Linked DNA regions of Homo sapiens: region 2 is linked to region 1. Evidence: fine-mapped expression QTL. A gene starts in region 1. The other region holds a variant in brackets. All regions are shown on one strand. Distances are between the middles of the regions. Region 1 holds the start of IL5RA (interleukin 5 receptor subunit alpha). Region 2 overlaps CNTN4 (contactin 4).

Region 1 (5,388 bases):
TTAAAGGATGCAGACACATTTAATTTCACTTTTTAAAAAAACGACTTTTGTGAATTCTTCCAGCATGTTCTATCATACTGTCTTTGGACGTTTACACTTTATTATAAAGAATTAAATTATTGCCATAAAAAACCAAACAGGCCTCGCTCAGTGGCTCACGTCTGTAATCCCAGCACTTTGGGAGGCCGAGGTGGGTGGATCACCTGTCAGGAGTTCAAGACCAGACTGACCAGCGTGGTGAAACCCCATCTCTACTAAAAATACAAAAAAATTAGCTGGGTGTGGTGGCGGGGGCCTGTAATCCCAGCTACTCAGGAGGCTGAGGCAGGAGAATCGGTTGAACCCGGGAGGTGGAGGTTGTGGTGAGCTGAGATCGCGCCATTGCACTCCAGCCTAGGCAACAAGACTGAAATTCCATCTCAAAACAAACAAACAACCCCCCCGCAACCCCCCGCCAGAAAAAAAAAAAGTCCCTGCCTCTCATTTTTTCGTTTGTGCTTATACAGAAACATAGAGACAGTGTTTCTGTATGAGCATGTGTTTGCTTTGTTTGTTTGTTTGTTTTTATTGGCGTAGTTAATTAAAGATCATATACCCAGGAAGGTGGTATGGAAGGAGCAGCCAGATCTAATTTTCTTTATACCCTTCACCGCGCCTAGCATAGTGCATAGGTGCATTCAATGAATATTTGAGTAAATGAATGTAAGAAATATACAGACCATTGGCTGAGTGTGGTGGCTCACACCTGTAATCCCAGAACTTTAAGAGGCCAAGGCGGGTGCATCACTTGAGGTCAGGAATTTGAGACAAGCCTGGCCAACATGGTGAAACCCCATCTCTACCAAAAATACAAAAAATTAGCCAGGCGTGGTGGCGGGTGCCTGTAATCCCAACTACTCGGGAGGCTGAGGCAAGAGAATCGCTTGAACCTGGGAGGCAGAGGTTGCAGTGAGCAGAGATTGCGCCACTGCACTCCAGCCTGGGCGACAGAGTGAGACTTCATCTCAAAAAATATACATATATATATACGGAGAGAGGCCATTAAAGCAGGCTTTTAAGCCAGAAATTACTGTCTTCCCAATGATTAATAAGTATTTTTAAGGTTTCATTAGTGACAAATATGTTACATGTATAAACAGATGGGCAGGACTTAAAAGAGTAGGCCAGATAGTTGATACTATATCTAAACTTTTCTGGGTGCCTCTTAGCAAATAAATGGATCTCTCTCTGTTCCTTGTTTTACTTCCCCTTTCCCCGAGGAAAATCACATTTTTCAGGTCTGACAACAATTTTCAACCTGATAACAATTGCTCCGGTTTCATTTTGGCAACTGCTAAAATGGTCACCTTGGGAACCCCAGGCACACACGCTGACTGTACTTGCACAGCTTCTACACTGAGCCTTTTGGAAATTGCCTCCAGGAAGCCTGTCTCTCATCTCACAAACAGAACCACTGATCCAACCTGGGCCACCATCTTTCTGCATCTGCTCTGTCTGAGACTCTCCCAGTCAGCTCCTAAGGAGACAGGGAATCCTGCATCACTCATCGCTTAGGCTAGACTGAAGGTCTCCTTCCAAAGGCAACTACTTACTACTCTCTGCCGTGGGTCATACAATAAGCACTACTCTTATCTATTCACACGCTAAGCTACTTTTTTAAAGCCAGCTTTGCTAGCTAGCCACCTCGAAATTCCCCAGAAGGAATCAAACAGAAATGGAACAAAGGACAGGAAAAGCCAAGGAGGTTTGCTGAAATTGAAGCATTCTGAAGACAGCTGGGTGGTAAAATGGATGTGACGTGAGGAAGGTGGTCTTGGGTGCACCCACAGACCAACACTGCCATTGTTACAATTTGTGTAGGATGATCTCAGGTGACAGACAGCAGCAATTTATCACACCCAGAAACGCATCCCCCACACATATTTACTTGAGGGTACCAGACCTGCTCACAAAGCAGAGAAGAGCTAAGGCGGTTCTCTAAGGGCAGAGAATTGCTGCTATTGCCTAGTGAGTGGGGAGAGGGTACTCCTCAGGCCTTACTTCCTATCAAATCATGTGTCAGTGTTGCCTAGGAGACAGAGGCACAGTAACTACTGTAGCCAAACAAGGCACATAAACAAAACAGAAATGCAACGCTTTAGAGTACCCACGGAAAACTTGTTTACCTTGTCACCATGAGTAAAAGTTAATTCCCACTCCTGAAGAGAGCAAACCAACTCTGAAAGAGAGTGAAAATGCAGACAAGACAGTTATCAGATAATGGCTATCTGGACGAGAGATTCTTTCGTTTGACAGCAGTTTGGTTGTTGGGAGTTCCAGTTCAGCTCCTGCACAGTTGCTCTGTACAAATCCTCCTCCATATTTGCTTAGAGAAAACGTGTTGCCATCCCATCATGAAGGAAGCTGCCTGAGAGTTTTTAACCATTACAGCCGTGATGATGAAAGAGTGAAGAACCGCCTCTAAGTTAAAAAGTGCACCCAGAGATAAGGTTCGTTCTCAATGCCCTGCCGCTGCTTCTCATCGCATGGCCACCGCATTTCTCAGTAAGTGGGAATCAAATGCTTCACTCACCACAGAGTAAGCAAATAAATATCTTTTTTCTATGACATGGGCTGTAACAATACCCTGTGCTCCACCTCCTAATAATTTCACTACACCCAGGGTGGGGAGGAGGGTTAGGAAAAGCAAGAAACAATGACTTCTAAATATATGACAAACTTGTAAACAACAAAAAGGGGAAACAAAACTCCTTATAATTCTATTATTATTAGCAGGGACAGAACTAATAATGGTCCCATTAAACTTGCATCATTAGGCAGGTCATGTTGATTCTGGGTATAACCTTCTATTCTTGTGTTTTGGCTCAGTAAGTGAGATGTGCAAATCCGTGGCAAGGTGAGTCATATGAAAACAACACCTATGGTTTTGTTAGTGCTTACATCAATATAAGACATCTGTTTTCCACCGCTCCAGATAATTATGCAATTAAAATGAGAACATATATTCTGCCAAGATTTCTTAGAAAATAAATGAGCTTCCAAAATAGGGTATAGGGTTTAATAAAATATCTCAGGAAGTTTCAGAGTTAAGCAAGAAATCTACAAATAAAGAAACAACAACAAAAAGTAGAGAGAGGCACTTTATCTAACTGAAGGAGGCGTTCTGCTTTTTCTTTCTGGTAGGGGTTCTTGGATTTCCAAGATTGTTTCATTGTATATAAAATGTACCCAAATTTGCTGAAATATGTCACTTGGTTTTGTGTTCACTAATGTATTTACCTAAAGCAAGGTAAGCATATTTCCATGTAGACAGAAAAAAGGATGAAATGGAACCAAAAAAAAGGGGGAAAAAGGAGAGACAGAGCGAGAATATTTTAATACCCTTGAGCCTAAAATTAATAAACACATGAAAAGTGATGGTGCTTTTATAGCCATGTGAATAATGTACTTAGTACTTGCTTTAATGAATTACCATACTGAACATTTTATTACCTGGCATGATTTCTATTTTAAGTGAATATGTCCTCTTTCATGGTTATCGAAAAAGGAATTTATGTAGCTATTTGTTAAAAGTTTGCATTTCAAAGCAAAATAAAGTTTTAGAAGTTAAATCACCTCATTTGTTTATATTATTTGAAACACCGCATGGGAAATTTTTAGGCAAAATACCAAAAGTGGGCCAGGCTTGTTACACACTCCCCAGCCTGCTGCTCTCCTGACCTAACTCATTCCTCTGTTAGGTTTCACCGCACATTGCACATTAGGGCTGTGCACTAATTTGCTTCTATTCCACACAGGGCCAGGCACATTGAGCATTGGTCCTGTGCCTGACGCTATGCTAGATGCTGGGGTTGCAGCCACGAGCATAGACACGACAGACACGGTCCTCGCCATCTTCTGTTGAGTACTGGTCGGAACAAGAGGATCGTCTGTAGACAGGTACGCCCAGGAGCATGGATGTGAGATGACAAATTGCACCATGTGCAATTGGCAGGAAATATTTTGCTACTGGGATATTTGTAGCAAACTCTTTCTTCTATTTTTCCAAATACTCAAGGTGGCAACACCATTTCCACTTGGACTGACAGAGAGTTTTATGTTTACAGCCACAACCTGAACTCATGAGTTCTATTTTAGGACTATTTCAGAAATTTAATCAAAAGTACAGTAGTAGTAAAAAAAAATTGCATGCATGATAAGTGGTCCTTATTATTCATTTATATATTTAGGAATGTGCAGTTTTTCATTGGGGGGTAATGCAATATACCTAGGTAAACATGTCTTTTGCAGTTTATACCTTGGTTTATTCTTCATCCCCCAAGAGATAACTTTTATTGCTGATTATACTGTACAGGATAAAAGAGAAAGTAAACTCTTCATATTTAAAAGCCTACCAGAGCATGAATCCTCTCAGTTGCTTTACAATTTCTGCCACTAAGGTTGAGTCTGGAATTAGGTGTTACCACAGTTGACTCAAAAAGGTTTTAAAAACAGGGGTGCCAGTATAACTTTGGTTATAAAACGAACGCCCCAGGCAGAAAAATAAGTTGGGAAAAAAAAGAGGGGAAAATATTTGTAAGTCTGAACTTCAGTAGAATTTGACCAGTTCTCAAGAACGCTGGGGAAATCCACTGCTAATTGTCAAAATTTTACCAAACTTCCTAGAAACACCTATAGGGAAGGAGACTGTGGTTGTTTTCTCCAAAATTTCAAAAAATGTAACACCTATCAGAAACTAGATTTTTAGAGAGCACTTGAGGAATTTTAGATTGACTCAATGAAATGTTATATGAGCAAGTAGATCATGAGATCATGATTTCTCTTAAAGATTGAGCATGTCTTCCTGGTGATAGATAAACAACCTATAGTTGCTTCATTCTGCTTAGTTTGCATCTTATTTTAACAATTTAATGGTTTTCTGCTAGATTTTAATTGGTAGCCATGAGAAGAATGAGTCGAACATATTGTCGATATATATGTTTAAGCTAATGAAGTCGCTCTATTCTTTTATAGTGAAATATGACCCAGTTGACATCTACATAACAGTGTATCTTTGGATTAAAGAAATGGCCTGAAGAGATTTGTTGTTGCTGTTGTTGTTGTTGTTTTAAGCAGGGACAAGAAGTATTAAGGGGCCACAGAGAGTGAGCAGAATTGTAGAAAACATGGTATCAAATCCTGAAGCTCTAGTACTATTCAACCTTATGTAAAATTTATCTGACTCACAAAAAAAAAAAAATGTCATTCTTTTTAATATTTAGACCCCTACTGAGTACCTTGTGCTGCCTATAGGACAACTGATTTTGTTCAAAAGCACCTCTTTTTAAATATGACAATGAGACATGAAAAAGCTGTCTATTTATTTATGGCCAAAAACTAATAATCAAA
Region 2 (5,388 bases), 190 kb after region 1:
TATTTTCCCTTGGCTAGCTGTGTTAATCTGTGTTCGTAGGCTTTGTGTTTGGTTGCTGCTACTTAGTAAAATACCTGAACAAATCCAGGGTCTATGTTATACTGACATCATTCCCCTACTTACCAATCCCATATAAGCTAAGTCACAGAAAAGTGTTTCAGCAGAGCAAACTCAATGCAAACCCCTGAACTGACAGAAAAATGTAAAAAAAAAAAGTCAGGTATTCTTGAAGTTTTTTTTTAAATGATATTTTGTGAAATAGAGTTACAAATCTGTATCATATAAAAATCCCTTCTTAAAACTGTATCTTTCTACACATATAATTTTATCACTTTAGGCGGACATTTTTCATCCATTCAGGAGAAATTCTGCAGTAGCATTTGAAATGAGTTTACATAAATCAAACTGTGCACAACACATGGGCATATTTGTCAAAAAACTACATTTTGCTTTTACAGGATTTGAAATAGCATATCAGACACACAGAAACCAGAAAACACACCTTTCAGTTTCAAAAGCATTTGTAATGTACTATTGGTGTGCATATAATCTTTTGGATATCTTATCGAGATAAGACTGGCTGGAACATCTTTCACTAATTAAAATGGAATTAAAAATTCAAGGCCGGGCATGATGGCTCATGTCTGTAATCCCAGCACTTTGGGAGGCTGAGGTGGGCAGATCACATGAGGCCAGGAGTTCGAGACCAGCCTGGCCAACATGGCAAAACCCCGTCTCTACTAAAAATACAAAATTAGCTGGGCGTGGTGTTGCACCTCTGTAATCCAACTACTGGGGAGGCTGAGGCATAAGAAGCGCTTTAACCTGGGAGGTGGAGATTGCAGTGAGCCAAGATCGTGCCACTGCACTCCAGCCTGGGGGACAGAGCTAGACTCCGTCTCAAAAAAAAAAAAAAAAAAAAAATCAAGTTCTTTTCTTTTGTTAACTCAATTTACTTAATTAGCTTCTGAAGTTATCTAACCCTGCAAATTTATCAGTTGTAACCATAAACTGTGGTACTTTTAAGGGAAAATTGTCAGAACTCCATCAGTTTTTGAATACTTGAGCTATTAATGGATTTCTTAACATTCTCCCATTTTGTGAGCATCTTTTGCACCAGAGATGCTGTTCAGCTTGTAGGATGATCCTTTTTCCTATTTGTACCCTTTATTCTCATCCTCAAACACTGACCTAGGGGAGGTTTGAAGGAAAAGTGAAAGGGACCTGTTCTATTTGACATTCACAGGTAATGAGGTTTTAAAAGTTATTGGTAAATCCCCAGAAGGGCACTATTAGAATCTAACCTTCGCTGGCACTTAAAAAATTAGTGCACATGGAAGTGAAACTTCAGTAGTTTCTAGTAGCTCAGAACTGTCAAATTGCCCCTTATGTCTGAGAGTAGCTGAGATACTGGGAGCTCCTTATTTGCTGTATTTAATATACTTAAATGATAATATTTCTCACATGCACTGCTAGAGGGCACCACTCCCTCAGTATTAGAATGAACTGTATTATGGGTCCTCCTCCATGTGAGAAATGCAACTTTTTATTATTTTTCAATGATCTTTATTAGATTATCTATGAGAAGCATCTGGCTGAGAGAAGCCCTCTATGTAATTCACAACTATTTGTTTTTAGTTAGTTAAATGAATTTTGGTCATATATCAAGGGTATTTTAAGTGGCCAATAGAACCCCTCAAAAACTTAAAAGTTTTTTGCTTTAGTGTCATTTCTCAAGAGAAACAGTAGAATGATAGCTCCTTAACTAGATATGCAGTGGCAGTCCTATTTGGGAAATATATGGATGTGATGTCTTACTACATTATTGAAGAAGAAAGGATTATTGTGTAATGCCAGTTCTATCACAGTCTGTGATAGAAGCATCACTGGGAACACTGCCAGTTGATGGAGAATATTAAGGCCAGCTTTTTTGGAAGTTCAGCATTTCTTATTACTTTAACCGTTGTCTACTTTCTTTAACTATTACCTCATCATTCCCTAAAAACAAGCTTAGAGTAAATGCATTAATTCAAATCTTTTCACTACTGAGGAGAAAATATTGGTATCAGATTATGAGACCCCAAATTTCTTTTGGCCTGTTGGATTGCTATCTAGAAAGAAGGCTACTGGTAGAAGATTTCTTCTTTCTAGGTCCACTGTTTTAGAATGGCTGATTCAAAAATCAGCCTTCTCTGAGGTCAGGTGTGTTGGCTCACGCCTGTAATCCCAGCACTTTGGGAGGCCAAGGCGGGAGGATCACTCGAAACCAGGAGTTCAAGACCAGCCTCGGTGACACAGTGAGACTCAGTCTCTATAAAAAATAAAACATTAGCCAGGTGTAGTGGTGAATGCCTGTAGCCCTTGCTTCTTGGAAAGCTGAGGTGAGAAGATCACTTGAACTCAGGAGTTCAAGGCTGCAGTGAGCTAGGCTCACACCACTACACTGCAGCTTTGGTGACGGTGAGACCCTGTCTTTTAAAAAACAAGTCAGTGCTCTCTTATTATGAATGATATTCACAAGGAGACTCTCAACACAACTCTGAAGTAGATGATTTTTCCATTTTGATGTTAGCATGATGTGCCCCTTCTAGTGTTCCTAATATCCATCCTTCTATTGTTTCGGTCTAATTCACTGAATGCCCTGTTTCCTGATGGCTCTAATAATGCTTCTTCCACGGGCAGCTCTTGGGTTTAAAAACTCCTATTC[C/T]TTTGGGCGTTATTATGAAACAAAAGAATTTTACAATCATGAGATTATTTTGAGGATTAAATAAAATAATACATGTATTGAACATAAAGTACTTAGCACAGTATTTGATCCAGATTAAGAACTTCATACGTCCCCTCTCCACTGCTATTTCCACTACTGCACTACCCCAGTCACCATTATCACGGACTTTTCTTCTGCTGAAAATTTTCTTAGAGTCCGAGAAACACATCATTGTTTGAAAACAGAAAATGTTTATTTTGAAATAATTATAGACCCACAGAAAGTACCAAATATAATACAGAAAGGTCCTGTGCATCCTTCACCCCGTCTCCCCCAATGGTTACATCTTATGTAGATACAGTTAAATACAAAAACAAAGAAACTGATACTTGGTATAATGTGTATGTATCACACATGTAGACTGGGCAAAAGCACCATGGAAACTGAGATAGGGAACTATTCTATTGTCACAAGGATCTTCCTCTTGCTTCCCCTTCACAGTCATATCCAGCCTCCTTCTACCTCCCCTCTGTAACTCCTGGAAACCACTGACCTCTTCCCATTACTATAGTTTAGTCATTCTGAGAATGTTTTAGATACATATGTGTGTGAGAGAGAGTCTGTGTGTGTGTGGTGTGTAATCATACAGTATGTGACCTTTTGGAGTTTTTGTTCCTTTTTCCTGCTGAGTATTACATGCTGGTATGGATAAGAAATACATCTTCAATATCGGCACTTCGGGCTCTATGAAAACTGACAAATACTTTGAGCACGGGAGCCATTTCAAGATCTCTCATCTTTCTCTGCCAACAAGTAGGATTAGGTATGGCCTTTTATTTTTTTTTATAAAAGACTTGAAAACTCAAAAATCAGTTACATAAACATAGGTGGAGGTTTTCTCTTATTCCCAGAAAAATATTTTAAAGACATTTTAGAACATTATTTCTTATATAATCAACATGTTGATTAAAATTAATTCTTATATAATGCTTTAAGTAGGGCTTCAGCTGCTAAATTCTTGTTAACCTCCTTTGACCCATCCTATCCATATAAAGATAATAAGACAGTCTGCATTTTAAACACTCTGTAATCACATCGACTTTCTTATATCAGTCCAAATTGGTGATATTTCATTTACATGTCAGTGTCTTAAACTCTTATACAAACTCAAGTCCTTGGTTATGCAGGTAGTGTACAGTATGCGAAGTCTGCTAAATGAACAGAAGAGAGTCATTAGACTATGATAGTGAGAACCCTAGAATTTCAGTAGCTAGGAAATAGTAGCTCTTGTTATTAGCTATTATTAGAACATCAGTTCCTTGAAGGCAAGAATATGTATCCTGGATCTGTATATCCCTTGGGCCTGGCACGGTGCTTGATACAAAGTTGATATTTAATCAATGAACCTATTGAAGAATTAAGTCAATTTTTAAAAAGCAACGATCTGGTTTTTTTTTTTTTTTTTTTTTTTTCTGAGACAGAGTCTTGCTCTGTCACCCAGGCTGGAGTGCAGTGGTGCAATCTTGGCTCACTGCAGCCTCCGCCTTCTGGGTTCAAGTGATTCTCCTGCCTCAGCCTCCTGAGTAGCTGGGACTACAGATGTGTGCCACCACACCTGGCAATTTTTTTTTTTTTTGTATTTTTAGTAGAGATGGGGTTTCACCATCTTGGCCAGGCTGGTCTTGAACTCCTGACTTCAAGTCATCTTACTGCCTTGGCCTCCCAAAGTGCTGGGATTATAGGCGTAAGCCACCATGACCAGCCAAAAAGCAACAATCTTTCTTTTGTCTGACTTCTGGCATAATTCAAGTAAGAGCCTCTTTCCCTTTTGTGTATTATAAAAAAGTTGATAATCAATATTTGATGAATGAATGTATGTTGCAGGAAAGAAATCAGGGATTCAGTTCAAAACAGGAAATTCCCGTCTCATGAGGCTTTGCCTGAACACTACATCTCTTTCTCCCCTTCATATAGGGTTATGAATGGCTTCGTGAACTTCCAGTCCTGTGTACAGGACATGACATCCTCTTTGGAGTTGTACCTCAGTCTAATGAAACAAATTATCCAAGAAATACCACATGGGCTGTTTATACTACTAAATCATCTGAACTGGTGTGATAGTAAATGTTTTACAAGTGGCTCTCTAAATAAAACAAAACAATAAAATAAAACACCAAAGAATTTGGTTTGTAGTCCTTGCCAATTTCTGTGGTGTAAATATTCCTACCTTGGCCAATTTCAAGCTATCAACATGAAGTCACTGAACGCTGGGTTGAGAAGAGATACATAGAATGAGCTCCTGCTGCTGAGCTAGCTCTAGCAGCTAACCGCCTTTCCCTACTTTTCCCACAACATGTACTTAGGAGAAGGTAACAGGGCAAGTGCACCCTGGAAGTTCAGCTTTCCCCAGATTTGGGTCTTGTTCGGCAGAAGCACATGGTCTCCTCTTTCCTCCCCAGTATGTCCAACAGCTGACCCAGGACTGAGAAGGTAAGAACTTCACCTTGAGTTTACTTGCTCAAATAATGTGTTCCCTGAGGCTTTGTGAGACAAGTTATCACAGCAGTTTCATGCACTTCAGTGATACAGGCTCTATTCTAGACATGCAGGCTCACCAGAACCATATTACAATGTAGAAGAGCTATGTTTATGCAATGCGGCAGTGACTGATATCTTGCTTA

Evidence for each region. PIP is the estimated chance that this variant, and not a neighbour inherited with it, causes the effect. A credible set is the group of variants that fine-mapping cannot tell apart.
Region 2: its variant is the best candidate, but not a certain one, in a credible set for the expression of IL5RA in whole blood (INTERVAL, PIP 0.65).

Annotation. Positions count from the first base shown.
Region 1 is chr3:3,107,101-3,112,488 of GRCh38, reverse strand. It overlaps IL5RA (interleukin 5 receptor subunit alpha), which reads left to right and starts at 2,115. Exons shown (of 12, transcript NM_175726.4): 1 at 2,115-2,544; 2 at 3,798-3,939. RefSeq lists an enhancer at 2,670-2,749 and a silencer at 2,830-2,949.
Region 2 is chr3:2,918,145-2,923,532 of GRCh38, reverse strand. All of the region lies in intron 12 of CNTN4 (contactin 4), which reads right to left. Among named protein-coding and RNA genes, the nearest start is that of CNTN4-AS1, 140 kb to the left of the region's middle. RefSeq lists an enhancer at 1,525-1,574. The variant C/T (reference allele first, on the strand shown) is at 2,708.